Linked DNA regions of Homo sapiens: region 2 is linked to region 1. The links come from fine-mapping of genetic effects on gene expression. Tissue or cell type: T cells. Region 1 holds a variant in brackets; the other region holds the start of a gene. All regions are shown on one strand. Distances are between the middles of the regions.

Evidence for each region. PIP is the estimated chance that this variant, and not a neighbour inherited with it, causes the effect.
Region 2: FRMD4B starts here. The variant in region 1 is fine-mapped to the expression of FRMD4B in T cells (TOPMed, PIP 0.98).

The regions. Positions count from the first base shown.
Region 1 is chr3:69,235,194-69,243,301 of GRCh38, forward strand. The region is part of intron 7 of FRMD4B (FERM domain containing 4B); the gene reads right to left. Among named protein-coding and RNA genes, the nearest start is that of LMOD3, 120 kb to the left of the region's middle. RefSeq lists enhancers at 1-334, 335-834. The variant T/C (reference allele first, on the strand shown) is at 4,968.
Region 2 is chr3:69,381,589-69,389,696 of GRCh38, forward strand. FRMD4B (FERM domain containing 4B) reads right to left here and starts at 4,500. Exons shown (of 23, transcript NM_015123.3): 1 at 4,240-4,500. The coding sequence starts at 4,401. RefSeq lists an enhancer at 3,967-4,577.

The DNA.
Region 1 (8,108 bases):
ATAATATTTTCAAGAAAGAAACTGTAATCAACTCCTTAAATTGTAGAGATGGTCAGGGAGCCTGAGCAAAGCTTTTGGGTGGACAGCTCAGGTTTGTTTTAGGAGACTCTAGCAAGTGACCTGACCTAGCAGTGACAAAACATGAGTGCTGTCATCTAATCCCCCAAAAGAAATACTTCTAAAGGGCCAGGCGCAGTGACTCATGCCTGTAATCCCAGCACTTTGGGAGGCAGAGGTGGGTGGATCACCTGAGGTCAAGAGTTCAAGACCAGCCTGGCTTTGAGGTGAAACCCTGTCTCTACTAAAAATACAAAAATCAGCTGGGTGTGGTGGTGGGTGCCTGTAATCCTAGCTACTCAGGAGGCTGACGCAGAAGAATCGCTTGAGCCTGGGAGGCGGAGGTTGCAGTGAGCCCAGACCATGCCACTGTACTCCAGCCTGGACAACAGAGTGAGACTCCATATCAAATTAAAAAAAAGAAAGGAAAAAAAAAAAGAAATACTTCTAAGGGACAACAGCTCTTTCACTGGGTATTACCAGGTGGCAGAGAGTGGGCTAACCCCTTTCTCTACAGGCATATTATGCTATTAACATCAGTGTCCCTATTTCATGGATATGAAAACAGAGTTAAGGGAGATTAAGCAATTTAAACTCACAAAGCAAATACGACTCCAAACCTGTGCTTTAACAACTTTGCCTTACTCCTCCAGGATTCTAGGAAGAGGGGACAGGAAATAGGGAAGGAGCAGAGGAAAGATTTTAACTTTGAGGCTTCAGCATTTATCATTATGGTAGCCACTGATTAATTCCACCAAAATATGTATTGCTTAGGTGATGACAGTCTGCGTTTTTAAACTAGATCAAACTGGATTAACCACATCAAGGATCTGAACATAGATAACAAGACTTAATGTGTTAGCAGTGTTTCTTGAACCACACCAAACCAGAACAAACCAAACAAAAACCATAGCCTAGTTGTCCCTTAGTAGTGAGGACACCAAATTTAGGGTTTTATTGTTGTTGTTATTGTTTTGGTTTTTTTTTTTTTTTTCCGAGATGGAGTCTCGCTCTGTTGCCCAGGCTGGAGTGCAGTGGCACAATCTCAGCTCACTGCAAGCTCCGCCTCCTGGGTTCAACAGATCCTCCTGCCTCAGCCTCCTGAGTAGCTGGGACTATAGGCACCTGCCACGATGCCCGGGTAATTTTTATATGTTTAGTAGAGATGGAGTTTCACCATGTTGGCCAGGCTGGTCTGGAACTCCTGACCTCAAATGATCCGCCCGCCTTGGCCTCCCAAAGTGCTGGGATTACATGCATGAGCCACCGTGCCCGGCCCCAAATTTGGTTTTTGAAAAACACTTTTACATGAGCTGCAAAACCAGACTCCAGTCATTTTCGGCAGAACCTTAAAACAGGGAGTTGCAAACTGCTACAGGTGAGAAGTCCAATATATCAATTAAAGCTCCTTAAACCACACAAGGTATTCCTGAAGCCCCACTTTTTATACTGATTCAAAAAGCTCAGAGTAAGATCTCTACCCTGGATGAGTTATCTCTGTTACTGTTAGGGTATACTAAGGCCTGGGATGGGATGAAGAAAAGAAGAAACAAGCTGACACTTTCATTCACAGTCAATCATATGCAAAAGCAGAAAGCTAGAGCTCAAGTTCACTCAATGCCTAATGCCACTCCTGATTATTGCAAGTTAGTTCCGAAAAACTGATTACAGACTGAGCTAACTGCATAACAGCTAAAAGAAAGAGCCCTCTTCACTTTCTACCCACCCAGACTAAACTTAAAAGAGAGCAGCTCCACCTAGCCGGGTAAGCGAGGTGAATTCATTTGGTCCAACCCCTAAATGCACAGATGAGAGAAACAAGACCCACTGAAGTTTGAAAACTTACCAAAGTTCCCACAGTAGGTGGCAACAGATCTAAAGGACCAGAGGTTTGTTCTCTGGACAACTGCAGGCCGGAGCACAAGAGGAGGAAGAGGAGAGAATTGGAAAGCTAGGGAGGAACGGAAGAGGAGGGAGGGGCCGGGAAAGGAAACACCCAGCTGGCTGTGCCAGCCCTTGCTCTCCTCCCCTCCTAAGCCACAGGGTCTTTCATTTTTGGAATTTCCTCCCTACCTTTAAACCTTTCTTGATTTAAACCTTTCTTGATCAGACCTTAAACCAAGTCAGGTTGCAGCTATTTACAGAGTGAAAAGTGAGAACTGAAAGAATTATATAAGCCTTTCTCCTGGCCTCTGGCCAAATCTAGGGATGCCTCCCACTGTTTCTGTGAGAGGTGGGAAGTTGTTGGCCCATCCTTCATCCTAAGAAGCTCCTTCACAGGGCTACAGGTGTGAGCATGCAAAGAAGGCCTTCATGGGGGTTTAGGTGTGAGCATGCATTTCTAGGCTTCATGCATTTCTAGCGCCTTCATGGGGGTTCAGGTGCGAGCATGCATTTCTACACCATCTCTGGTCCCCAGCTTCCTCAGACCTCTCAGCTTCTCTTTCATAGGATGATAAAAGATATTCTTTGGGCTTTTATTTATGTACTCATTTACTGAGACAGAGTCTCGCTCTGTCATCCAGGCTAGAGTGCAGTGGCGCGATCTCGGCTGACTGCAACCTCTGCCTCCTGGGTTCAAGTGATTCTCCTGCCTCAGCCTCCTAAGTAGCTGGGATTACAGGCACGCACCACCATGCTCGGCTCATTTTTTGTATTTTTACTAGAGACAGGGTTTCACCATGTTGCCCAGGTTGGCCTCAAACTCCTGAGCTCAGGCAATCGGCCGGCGTTGGCCTCCTAAAGTGCCAGGATTACAGGCGTGAGCCACAGCGCCCATCCACTTTGGGCTCTTAAGGTGGCCATCCTAGGCACTTGCTATGTGTGACAAGTGCCTAGGATGCATTTTACTTACACAAACTCATTTAGTCTTCATGGCACCCAAGATGTTGGTGCTCTAATTTACAGATAAGGAAACTGAGATTTAGAAAGATCACCTAGCTGCCCATCATTTTACTAGAGCTAGTACACAGGCAGCCAGTACATACCTAGGAAAAAATCAAAAATACCAACCAACCAATCAGCTCTAGGCCTATGATTTGCAGTAATACGGTTTGGCCTTTAGAACTGCATTCAGTCCCAGGTCTCTCTGTTCCTAGGAGTTTTGTGGTCTTAGATAAACTAACCTTTGTGAGCCTGCATTTCCATATTATAAAAATACAAATAGTGACCTGTTGCATAGGATTCTTGGGTATATTACAATAGAATGCAATGAAGGCACTTGCCTATGTTCAATAAATGTGTTCCTTCCTGGCCAGGTGTGGTAGCTCACGCCTGTAATCCAGGCACTTTGGGAGACTGAGGTGGGCAAACTGCTTGAGCCCAGGAGTTTGAGATCAGCCTAGGCAACACAGTGAAATCTCATCTCTATGGAAAATACAAAAATTAATCAGACGTGGGGTACACACCTGTAGTCCCAGCTACTCGGGAGGCTGAGATGGGAAGGTCACTTATGCCCAGGGGGCACGTGATCTGCAGTGATCCATGATCATGCCACTGCACTCCAGCCAGGATAACAGAGAAAAATCCTGCCTCAAAACAACAACAACAAAAATGTTCCTTCCTTTCTGAAGGTAGCATAATAAACCAAAGATTTTACCAAACACTTTATTCCTACCACTCTCTGCCCAGGCTGGTGGTCGATTATTACTATTGAGAAGAATCCTAAAGGGGTGATCTGGGTTAGAGTTGGCAGATTTAATATATTGGACATACTTATACTAAAAAATTGCTCGTTGTTCATCTGAAATTCCAATTTAACTGGGCGTCCTATATTTTTATTTGCTAAATCTGGCAACTCTAAGGGCTTATAATAAACTGCCTGGGAAAAGAACTTTGAAAGTAACTTGCCAAGTTCCGAGTTGTGAGCAGTTTGGGGCTTGGTTTGACAGAGTCTATTGGCAACCAGTGGAAGCTCAGCCTAGAAACTCACTTTTCCAACATCATGACTGATCCACAGGATTGGTGTCAGCCTTTTATTTTCTCAGCATTCTACCAAAGATGCATCCTGTAGCAGGAAACCTGCTTGTGTTCTGGGAAGTGCAGTGTCCTCTCAGCTAGAATTCCTTTGTCATTACATTTTTGTCTGTGGCCTAACTTGTAACAGGGGACAATTACTCTGCCCATCTGCATGCTTGATGGGGATCAACTGTCAAGCTATTTGTTTTTAGGTCTAAGGAATTTCTAATGAGAATGAAAATGTGATGAAAGATTTTTCTAAACGTCAGCCAGCTCCCTGAGGACTCCGATCATGTCTACTTTGAACCTTTAACTCTCTTAATAATGGGTAGAAGAAATATCATCCATAAGAATGACTTAGGTTGGGAAGCAGGTTAACATGAAAATCTACAAATATTTAAAATAAAAATATTTTATTTCTCTCCTGTTAAATTCATAGAGACAGAAAGTAGAATGGTGGTGGCCATGGACTGCGGGAGGAGTGAATAGGGAGCTGTTTAATGGGTGCAGAGTTTCTGTTTTTCCAAGATGAAAAAGTTCTGGAGATTGGCCGTACAACATAAACACGTCCAGGCGTGGTGGCTCACGCCTGTAATCCCAGTACTTTGGGAAGCTGAGGCGGGTGGATTGCCTCAAGAGTTCGAGACCAGCCTGGCCAACATGGTGAAACCTTGTCTCTACTAAAAATACAAAAAATTAGCCAGGTGTGGTGGTGCGTGCCTGTAATCCCAGCTATTCAGGAGGCTGAGGCAGGAGAATCGCTTGAACCCAAGAGGCGGAGGTTGCAGTGAGCCGAAATCATGCCACTTGCACTCCAGCCTGGGCGACAGAGCAAGACTCTGTCTCAAACACACACACACACACACACACCCAACATAAACATTACTTAACACTACCAAACTCTATTCTTAAAAATGGTTGAGATGATAAATTTTATGTATATTTTACTACAA[T/C]TTAAAAAAATTTATTCTTAAATCTAGAGTTAGAAAAAGGATACATAGGCCAGGCATGATGGCTCATGCCTGTAATTTTGGGAGGCCGAGGAGGGTGGAACCCAAGGTCAGAAGATCGAGACCATTCTGGCTAACATGGTGAAAACCCATCTCTACTAAAAATACAAAAAATTAGTCGGGCGTGGTGGCATGTGCCTGTAGTCCCAGCTACTTGGGAGGCTGAGGCAGGAGAATTGCTTGAACCCGGGAGGCGGAGGTTGCAGTGAGCCAAGATAGCGCCACTGCACACTCCAGCCTGGACGACAGAGCAAGACTCTGTCTCAAAAAAAAAAAAAAAAAAAAAAAAGAACACGTAAAAGAAAAACAATCAATGCAGATAATGTTTTCCTACAAAAGAATGGAAAGTCAAAGAAATGTGTTTCTCTTCTGGGAAACTTCCTACTAGACAAGTGAAAAATTATTTATGGTCAACTTGAAGCCCCAACTCTTTAATCCTTCTTCCTGTATGTGTGATTCAATGTGTCTTTCCTGATCACACAAAAAAATGGATTAACCGCATTAGCCATCTGAACACAGATAAGAAGACTGTATTGTTATGTGTTATGTTATCACTTAGTGTGTTTCCAGAAACAAACCAAAAGGCCTGGAAATGCTTATCAGCGGGGGAATGTAGAATTCTCCCTCAACAATGTCGTCTCACAGCTCCTGTAGACTCTGGATGGTTTGCACTTTGAGAAGTGGAAGTAGTTCATGTCATGCTACTTTCTATTCCTACCGAATGCCACGCATGCCTGTGTCTCAGCCAGCCGCTACCTGAAGAGGCCAAGTATGCTGAGTTTCATTTCAGGACCAAGTAGCTATGATGGGTGTAACGGCCTGGTCCACTCCAGTGGAGAAAGAAACTGAGAACTCAAATGGGTCAAGAGAGTTACTTCCTGTATAGGACTGATCCTATGTGGTGTTAGTAACTGTCTAAAGATGTATTAAGGTGGGACTTAGGGTTTTTGTGTTCATTTAGTTGCATCAGGTTTTTTTAAGCTGTGAAATGCAAGGGGTTTTGAAATGCAAAATACTTAAGCTGTGAAATGCAGAAGCCTGACTCCTACTCTGATTCTATGGTTCATAGAGTAGAGTGTGTGGTCCAGCAAGAGGCTGAAATAAGAGTGGAAAATGCTGCTTATGTGTCCCCTTCTGGGAGATTCATAGCGCTCATGAGCAGATTGAAAACTTAGCCAAGAGAACTTGGGAAACTTTGTTTAACTTTTAACCAAGTATTGTAGAGAGGAAAATCACTTCTCAAGAGTTTTCACAAAAGTGTTTTGTTGATTCATCAAAGGCCCGACCTGAAATAAGACAAAAACGTTTCATTTCTGTCAAGTAAGCCTTCTTTATTCTGCTGGCCAGGAAGGTAATGATTCTAACAAATTTGTGTTGGGATACAAAAAAAGAAACTGGTTGGGTGCAGTCGCTCACACCTGTAATCCCAGCACTCTTGGGAAGCCGAGGCTGACAGATTTTCTGAGATTCAGGCGCTTGAGACCAGTCTGGCCAACAAGGTAAAACCCCGTCTCTACTAAAAATTAAAAAATTAGCCAGGCATGGTGGCTAATTTCAAGAAGAATTGCTTGAACCCAGGAGGCGGAGTTTGCAGTGAGCTGCGATTGCACCACTGCACTCCAGCCTGGGCAACACAGCGAGGATCCATCTCAAAAAAACAAAACAAAACAAAACAAAACAAAAAAACCCCCAAAAAACAAAAAAGGAAACCTCTAACAGTGGTAAAATGCATGTGGTTTGGAGCCCTAATTTGCCACTCTCTAGCTATGTGACCTAAATAGTAAGCTACTTAACAGCTACAAATCTCAGTTTTCCTATCTATAACATGGGGACAATGACAGTGCCATCAAAGGGTTGCTGTGAGGATTAAACATATTAATAATAGTAACGATGGCAAATATTGTTTATTGAGACAAAGAAATGGTTCCAGAGAGGCTAGGCAAACTACCCACAGGTACATAACAAGTGGCTGGGCCTGGATTTGAACCCAGGCAGTTAAATTCCAAAACTCCTCTCTTCACTACAGCCTTCCCATTGATTCCAGTGGGTACTCAGCATAGCGCCTTGCCCATGGGAGATGATATTTTTATTATTATCATTGACGGTAAAGACTCTGGAAATGAAATTAGATTTTAGAGCTTTAAGTGCTCCAGAGGTGTAATAACTAAGGGGCAAATTTCTTGAAAGTGTTTTTATCCTCCCTTCCTTAACTACTCTCCAGGGCATCCAAAGAAATTCCTTTCCCATGGGAAATAGCTGCATTTTTTTTTTTTTTTTTTTTTTTTTTTTTTTTTTTTTTTTTTTTTGTAGCACAGCTGTAACTTGTGAATATTCCCTTCCCACTTGAAGCTGGGTGTTAATATACTCTCATTCTGACCCAGCACTGAATTGCAAAATGTAGTCACTCACTTTTTCTTACAAGTAGAAGCACCCTAATCACATAGTTACTTGGTAATTTTCACCTCTCAAAATCTTAGGAAAAAAAAAAAAAGGCCGGGCTCGTTGCTCACCTGTAATCTGTAATCCCAGCACTTTGGGAGGCCGAGGATGGTGGATCATGAGGTCAGGAGTTCAACACCAGCCTGGCCAACATGGTGAAACCCCGTCTCTACTAAAAAATACAAAAATTAGCCGGGCGTGGTGGTGGGCACATGTAATCCCAGTTACTCGGGAGGCTGAGGCAGGAGAATCGCTTGAACCCGGATAGCAGAGGGTGCAGTGAGCCGAGATCGCACTACTGCACTCCAGCCTGGGCAACGAGAGTGAAACTCTGTCTCAAAAAAAAAAAAAAAAAAGCTTTGCTTTTACAAACTCATTTGTGGCTGGCAGCTGGGTGATAAAGCCTTGCCTCCTTGCCGTGTCAGCTTTCAGGAATTCTCTGTTTGTCTGTGTTGTGTTACCCAAGTAGCCTGTTATCTTTGCGGTTTAAGGGCTGACTTGGAAATTCAGACTGTCATCTATTTAAAGAAAATGGAAGTCCCCACTCCACTATTTTAATTAACTTTCAGAGAGCAGGGTTTCCTACTGGTTATGATAATGTTAACTTAAAATACTCTGAAGGGAACACGGCAGGAAACAAAATAA
Region 2 (8,108 bases), 150 kb after region 1:
TCCATATGCCTGAAAGCTGAGCAGTGCAGTGGAACAATCCCCTCTCTGATTTAGAATTCACAATTATGGGATAGCAAAGGGGTAATCTTATGATAAGCCCCTTAACTCAAATTCCTGTGGCAAAATACATACAAAGGTATTTGAGCATTAATCTTTGTACTTATCTTGAAAAATAGCTAATATTTTTATGTAAAGAGCACTAGATTTGATATTCTAATGATGCAGTGAACATTGTTGGTTGCATTTCAGCCAAACATTTTGCCTTTCCTCCCTGGCAGCTCTGTGGTCTGAGTAGGGCCAACCTCAATCCTAGGTTCAGAAATGGGTCCCTTCCCCTCTAGCCTCAGCAAATCAATGCAATCCAGTGTTTCTTAACCTTTTAATTCATTGTTATCTGCTTAAGGAGCCTTTTTAGATTTTTGTTTGTTTGTCACCCCTCCTATTTTATTTCATTTTATTTATTTATTTTGAGACAGAGTCTCACTCTGTTGCCCAGGTTGGAGTGCAGTGGTGTGATCATGGCTTACTGCAAACTCCATCTCCCAGGTTTAAGTGATTCTCATGCCTCAGCCTCCCGAGTAGCTAGGATTACAGGCATGTGCCACCATGCCTGGCTAATTTTTGTATTTTTAGTAGAGATGGCGTTTTGCCATGTTGGCCAGGCTGGTCTCGAACTCGTAAGCTCAAGTGATCCACTCGCCTCAGCCTCCCAAAGTGCTGGGATTACAGGCATGAATCACCACACTCAGCTACTTTTTGTATTTTTAGTAGAGACGGGGTCTTGCCATGTTGGCCACGCTGGTCTTGAACTCCTGACCTCAAGTGATCTGCTCACCTTGGCCTCCCAAAGTGCTGGGATTAGAGGTGTGAGCCACTGCACCCAGCCCAATCCCTCCCATTTTAATGTCACAGATATGCTGTATTTCTGTTTATATATTGCATGTATATTCGTGCTTTATAAATAAAAGTAGTGAATTTTTTTCCCACCCCCCTCCTCCAAAACAATTTTTGCCTCCTTTGGGCCATTTCACTCTCATTGAGAATGCATAAATTGTCATCCCATACTCTGTGCCAATCAGTGCATGGCATCAGGAGTGGGTACAGACCCTAAATTGGAGTTCCAGCATGTAAACTGGGACTTTTTTTTTTTTTTTTTTGATAGTTGGAGGATATGAGAAATTCTTTCTTTCTGGATGTGTGGATATAAGGCCTGAAACTGCTGTGATTATCTGCTATTGTGAGGGAAGAAACCAGCTGAAGATAAAGCCAACACATCAGCAAGACCAGGTCTGAAAGCATGGTACCCTGATCAAACAATACCTAAAGTTCATTCTACTGCTAGACTTTTCAGCTGTGACAAAAGTCATTTCTTTTTACTCTGTAGGCAAGTTTGAATTGGGTTTTCTATTATAATAAAAAAAATCCTAACTCATGGAAAAGATAACATTTATTGGATGCTTTCTAAACTCCAGGCAGCGTGCTAAATATCTCACGTCAATTAATTCTTTTATCAATCTCTGTGATTAGTACTATTAATTTCTCATTTTATAAATGATGAAGCTGAAGTATAGTAAGATTAACTTACCCACGGTCATACATAGGCAAAGACTGGATTAACTCCCTTGTCTATTTAACTTGCAGTTACTGTCTTTTAGTTCTACACAATTAAGTCACTACTTTTTCACTTAATATTTGAAAAGCATTAAAAAATGATCTTCCTTTGCAAAGGATTATGTTGCACAATTAAGAATATTCAAAGGCTGAAAATATTTTTGAAAATCTTATTTTTGCAAAAGCACAGGAAATATTAAACTTAGAGATCATTTTCTTCTGATTCTGTATTCATAAAAGCCTTTGTTATTTATTTTCATTGATACATATTAGATGTACATAGTTCGGGGGTACATGTGATAATGTGACACATTCATATAATCAAAGCAGGGTTATTGGGATAGCCAATGCTTTAAATATTTTAATTAATTAATTTTTTAGAGGAGGTCTCCCTCTGTCACTTAGGCTGAAGTGCAGTGGGACAATTATGGCTCACTGCAGCATTGAACTCCTGGGCTCAAGTGATCCTCCTGCCTCAACGTCTTGAGCAGAGAGAACCACAGGTTCATGACGCTATACCTGGCTGATTTTTAAATTTTTTGTAGAGATGGGGTCTCACTATGTTGCTCAGACTGGTCTTGAACTCCTGGGCTCAAGTGATCCTCTCACTTCAGCCTCCCAAAATGTTGGGATTACAGGCATGAGCCATGGTGCCCAACCGTTATCTTTTCTTCGTGCTAGAAACATTCAAATTATTCTCTTCTAGTTATTTTGAAATGTACAATTGATTAAAGTTAAAAATAAGGAGTGGGGACTTATTTTTTTTTTATTTTTTATTTTTTTAAGAGATGGGTCTCACTATGTTGCCCGGGCTGGCCTCAAACTCCTGGGCTCAAGGGATCTTCCTGCCTCAGCCTTCTGAGTAGCTGGGATTATAGACACACAGCACACTGCCTGACTACCACCATTATTTTAGATGTTCTTATCAATTATGATATGGTATTGGCTCAGTCACCATCCATTTTAGAGAAAAGAAAAAAATACATATATTTTAGTAGCTCAGTGTCTCAAATTGCTATTCTGCATAAAAATTATCAGTCAACCTTATAAAGAATCCATAAGGTCTCAGGTTTCTGGAATCTTTATTTTTGAATTGGTCAGTAACAGTATTACAGATAAGCCATAAATCCTCTGAATCCTTGGGGAGTGAGGCACAGAGTCACTCTGGTTGGCTACAATATTTGCGTTCCCTTTTTGAAAGTTTCTCAAACACTAAAAAGGAAAAACAAAATTACATAAGGGGCACTTATTCTACAGACCAAACTGAACAGGGATTTCCCAAGAGAGGAAAAAAAAGGCTTGAAAGACAGACACACTTCTGGCTCCAAAAAGCCAGAGAGCTATGTAATGTGGCCAGATGGGATATATCCACAATTCCCTAATACTCTCAAACTCCCACATGCTGCCCTGGTTCCCAACCTGCCTTTCAGATTCCATTTCAAAATGCAAGATATCACAGATATGTTATACAAAGCAGAAGCAGTGAAAGCACAAGTTCAAATGTTCCTCATATTTTAACAAGGGTGACAAGGGGACGCTGACTCTTTAGACTTCCACAGGCTAACCTTAGGTGCTGGCCTTTTCATTTTGCCTGATTGATGGAAGATTATGGTTTGTCAAAATCAAGTGCTTGATCATGTATGAGACACAATATAATAAGACATAAATTCTAGACATATTAGGAACAGGGTCAAATGGGGGGAAATCCAGGAACTGCAACAAAGCTATTCCACATCACAGGAAAGAAAATATGATATTATCTTTCCACAGTAGACACCAAGTATATTTCTAAACAATGCAGATTTTTAAAAATCTCAAATATATTAACAACCAAAGCACAGAACTTTTAAATTCATAAATTACTGTCTAAAAAAAAAAAAAGAAATCCAGGCAAACTGCAGTACCAGAGAGGATGAATGGTCTCCTAGTTGAGCAAAGTTGCTGCATTTTTTGCCTGCAGGATGGGACCGAGCAGAGAAATAAAGGGGCTGTGTTGTGTGACAGGGAGTAAATCCTAACATGAGCATTCCAACGTGTAGCCGGGCCACCCCTCCCTTCCCCAGCCTGTCATCCTCCTGCAAAGTGTTCACAATTTGCTGTCCTTCCTTCCAAAAGCCAGTAGACACAGAATCAGCTTTTCCTGGCTCTGCCTTACAAGTTGGGGCTGCCTGATGGAAAACTGAAAATCCAACGGAAGGATAAAAATCCACCAAGGCCCCCTCTGCCAGCAAATTGGTGTGAAACCGTTGCTTCAGAAGCAGCCACTCCCACCCCCAATGAAATTAAAAAGAAGGACTCATTTGAATGTCTAAGTGGCTTTCTGAAGACCCTCTGTTGCAAAGCAACAGCCTCCCTAGTCAAGCGCCCGCCAGTACACCATTGCTCTGTAACAGATGTCTGCAAACGCTGGGACTATCTCGCAAGTGCCCCCCATGCCCGATTTGAAAAATTCACAAGCTCTGTCAAGCAATAATTACCTAGAGCTGCTGAGCGTTTGACCCAAGGGCCAAGCAGTCTGCTAGGAGTTTAAGAAGAGCTGGGGGGAATAAAATCATACAGGTGGAGCCTGCTTCCCACGAGTGCCCGGCATCCTGCTGGGGCCCTCGGGTGCCGCGCGCTCCAGCTCACCTGGTACACGTCCTGCAGCCCGCACCACGTCCGCAGCACCTGGTGGCAAGCCCGCAGCCTCTCCGTGTACCATCTCCGCAGCGTGGACACGGTCAAGTTCCATACGAAGCGGCTGCCGCTGAACAGCAGGTCCTCCACGCCACACATGAACACCGAAGCCATGCCTCCTCCTTCGCTCTGAACCCGGGCGTCCCGGCTCTCGTACGTGCAGCCCCGACCCCAGCGGCCTGCCCGCCTGGGCTCCCGACGCCGGCTTCTGCTGGCAGCCGGGGGGTCAAGCCTGCCACCAAACTCGTCTTTCACCGTGCGTCCTGGCCAGGCTCCGGCGGCATGCCCTGGGATTGGGTGCCCGCCAGCCAACGGCTGCGACTGGCACACAGAAGCCCAGTGTCCACCCCCGCCCGCTCGCAGCGCCGAGCAAGCTGTGCTAAGCTCCACCAAGCTGGCCCTCGATGCTCCCGGGGCACGGGAAGCCCTGGCCGGCGAGGACTCCCCCTGGCGCTTCCCCAGGGCGCGGGGCAGGGACGGAAGCGGAGCAACTCTTTGCAGGCAGAGAGGGGAGCTGCATTTCAGCACACTTGGCTTCCACGTCTTGCGCGCGCGCGAACACACACACACACAGACACACACCCCCCACACCGGACGAGTGGTCTCCTAATCTGCCTCGGGGAACACCTTACTCATCTTGCTCTGTTCACACTGATAAAACACCTCTGGGCAGCCACAGATGCAGAAGAGAGAGAGAGAAAAAAAAAAATCTCCAAGGCATCCCTTTGGACCCTACTCCTGGGGGAATAGCCACGAATGTTTCCTTGGTTCTGCTGGAAGCAGGAGATGAAGGCAACAGTCTCAAAGCAACAGGCGGCCCTAGAACCTGCCTTTGCTCCTAACTTGAGGGTCTCAGAGAAAATGACAGCCTCCTGTGGTTGCCAGCAGGAAGGCAGGTTTCCTCACACCAAGATGCTGCTAATACCAATGCAGCAGTCAGGGAGAAAAACAGAGTTCTTGGTCCCTTGTAAATAGCTTGCCGTTACTAGTGCTGGGAAACAGAAGCCCATAAGAGAATCGGTGGTTTAGTTCTGGAAAATTCAGCCTCTGGACATGTCTAACCTCACCTGCAAGCACCAACCTGCATGGGTAGTTTATTCTCCCCTCAAAACCAAAGGAAACTGTTCCACCACTCATGAAGTCACTAGATAATTAATCTTATTTATTTATTTATTAAAGTTTTCCCTCGGGAATTGATGCTGATTGTTGGAAACATTTGGAAAAGGGAGCTCAAGGAGTCTCGCCTACCACCAGTCTCTGTCTTCCTTTATTTATTTTTGAGACAAGGTCTGTTGCCCAGGCTGGAGAGCAGTGACTCAATCATAGCTCACAGCTGCCTTGAACTCCTGGGATGAAGTGATCCATCTTCCCACCTCAGCCACGGGGACTACAGGTGCTAAGTTTATTATCATTATTTTTTTTGTAGAGATGGGGTCTCACTATGTCGCCCAGGCTGGTTTCAAATGCCTGGGCTCAAGCAATCTTCCAGCCTCAGCCTCCCAAAGTGCTAGCGTTACAGACATGACCCATTGTGCCCAGCCTCCATTTTCCCTTAGAATGTATGAAGATTTCTCATAGCAAAAGTGCTGTAGCAAATTTCAGGATGGAGTTTTTTCCTGAATCCATCTGTAAGTCAATTGTCTGTATTTTCTTGGCTGTTTCACATCTGGGTTGTTATCTATGCTATTAAGTGGCACCAAAAGGAAAGGTAAGGCACCAAAGCTTTTCTCCTGAACTAGCCCAGAAGACTCCAGAACAGATTATCGACAAGTAAATCAGCTTGATTTCAGGTATCAAATGTGCTTTTATAATCTTAATTCAGGTGAAACTCAATCAGTCAAAAGACGAAGAACACAAAATCTGTCCTCAAAGTGCCTGTTGTTTTCAGTGACTGTAATCAGAAAACTTTTAAATGAGATTTCTTTCGTTAATAAAATTGCCCAAGAGTTTTTGTTGAATTAGTTAATAGGACACAAGACTTGGTCCAAGATTTGCAAACCTTTCTTCACAATAAGTCTTCTCTATGTGCCATCAGTATTAGTATTGATGGTTTTTTTTTCAAGATGATGGTAACGATGAATCTGAATATAATAGATTTTACTGAATCAAAAGAAAATGAACTTAGCTTGAAAAAGAACTGTCATCATGCTGAATGGAAAACTACTGAACTTCAAAAATGCCCTATTAGTACGAGCAAATGGTGGTGGTACTTTTTTTTTTTAAACGATGCAGTTCGACTGTGTTCTCGGAAATGTCAGGCAGCCAAGGGAATACCAGAATAAAACCTACAACAGGTCAATTACCTCTGTCTCATGACACCATCCTCTCAGAAGAGAGGCTCTAGAAACACTCTGGCTGTTAGCTATCTGTGCGTAGGTCTAATGTCAGCAGTCACTTTCAAATTCCATCATTTTCATTCAAGGTTTCCAAAGTCAGGGCAATTTTTTAGAAGATAGGATGTAGTATAATAGGGGCTCTCAAAGTGTGGTCACTGGGCCAGCAGCTTTAGCATCACCTGGGAATTTGCTAGAGATGCAAGCTCTCAGGCAGCCCTGGAATCAGAAATTGTTGGGGGGTGAGATCAGCGATCAGAGCTTTCAGTTGGCCTCTGGAGGATTCCGACTCATGCTAAAATTAGAGAACTACAATAGTGATAGTATGGTGATTAGGAGCTAAATCTTCTAAAAGAGACCCACCCAACTTCAGATCTCCTCTCCTCAGGACCCGTGAGACCCCATATAAGCTCCTTAAGTCAACAAAGTCTCAATGTCCTCATGTGTACAATGTATTATCAGTATTCACTACAAAAAGTTTGGGGAAAATTAAGTAAAATATTCTGTATAAGGTCTTTAGCACGGTGTCTGGTGAAGGGTAAGCATCCAAAGAAAACTAATCACCATAACCCCCCGAATCAAGAATTGCTTCAGTTTTTTGTAGTCAGATAAAACAGTATAAGTAAAATGTGGGTTTTTAAAATGATAGATTTAGTGAGTATAAGTGCAGTGTTGTTATATGGATATATTGCATTGTGGCGAAGTCTGGGCTTTGAGTGTAGCCATCACAAGAATAGTGTACATTGTACCTATTAAGTTATTTCTCATCCTTCATCCCCTCCCACCCTCTGACCCTCCCCAGTCTCCATTGTCTCTTAGTCTACTTTTTTTTTTTTTTTTTTTGAAACGTAGTCTCCCTCTGTCGCCCAGGCTGGAGTGCAGTGGCACCATCTCAGTTCACTGCAACCTCCGCCTCCCGGGTTCAAGTGATTCTCCTGCTTCAGCCTCCCGAGTAGCTGGAATTACAAGTGCACAACACCACGCCAGGCTAATTTTTGTATTTTTACTAGAGATGGGGTTTCAGCATGTTGGCCAGCTGGTCTCGAACTCCTGAACTCGTGATCCTCCCCCCTCGGCCTCCCAAGGTGCTGGGATTACAGGCGTGAGCCACTGTGCCAAGCCTTCTTAGTCCACTCTCTATGTCCCTGTGTACATATTATAAAATGTGTTTTTAAATTTCAACTAGTTACCTACATGTGCTTTCCTATGACTTTCTGTTTGCTGAAGGTGAAAGTTTGTGGCAACTTGTTTTCAGGGAGCAGTTCTGTTGCTCTTTCAAGTTCCCAAAAAGCTTTTTGAGCTTGATCTTCCCCACTAGAGGCAACTTGTCCCGTGGACTCAGAGAAGCTGGGTGCAAGACAGAAGACATCTTATTTCTACTGACATAAACACTGATGCTTTTTTTCTTATCCAAATGGCTTTCCTCTTTTGTAGAAGAAGTTCGAAGGTCAAGACTGAGTGATTTTAGAGGGAAGGAAATACAACTTC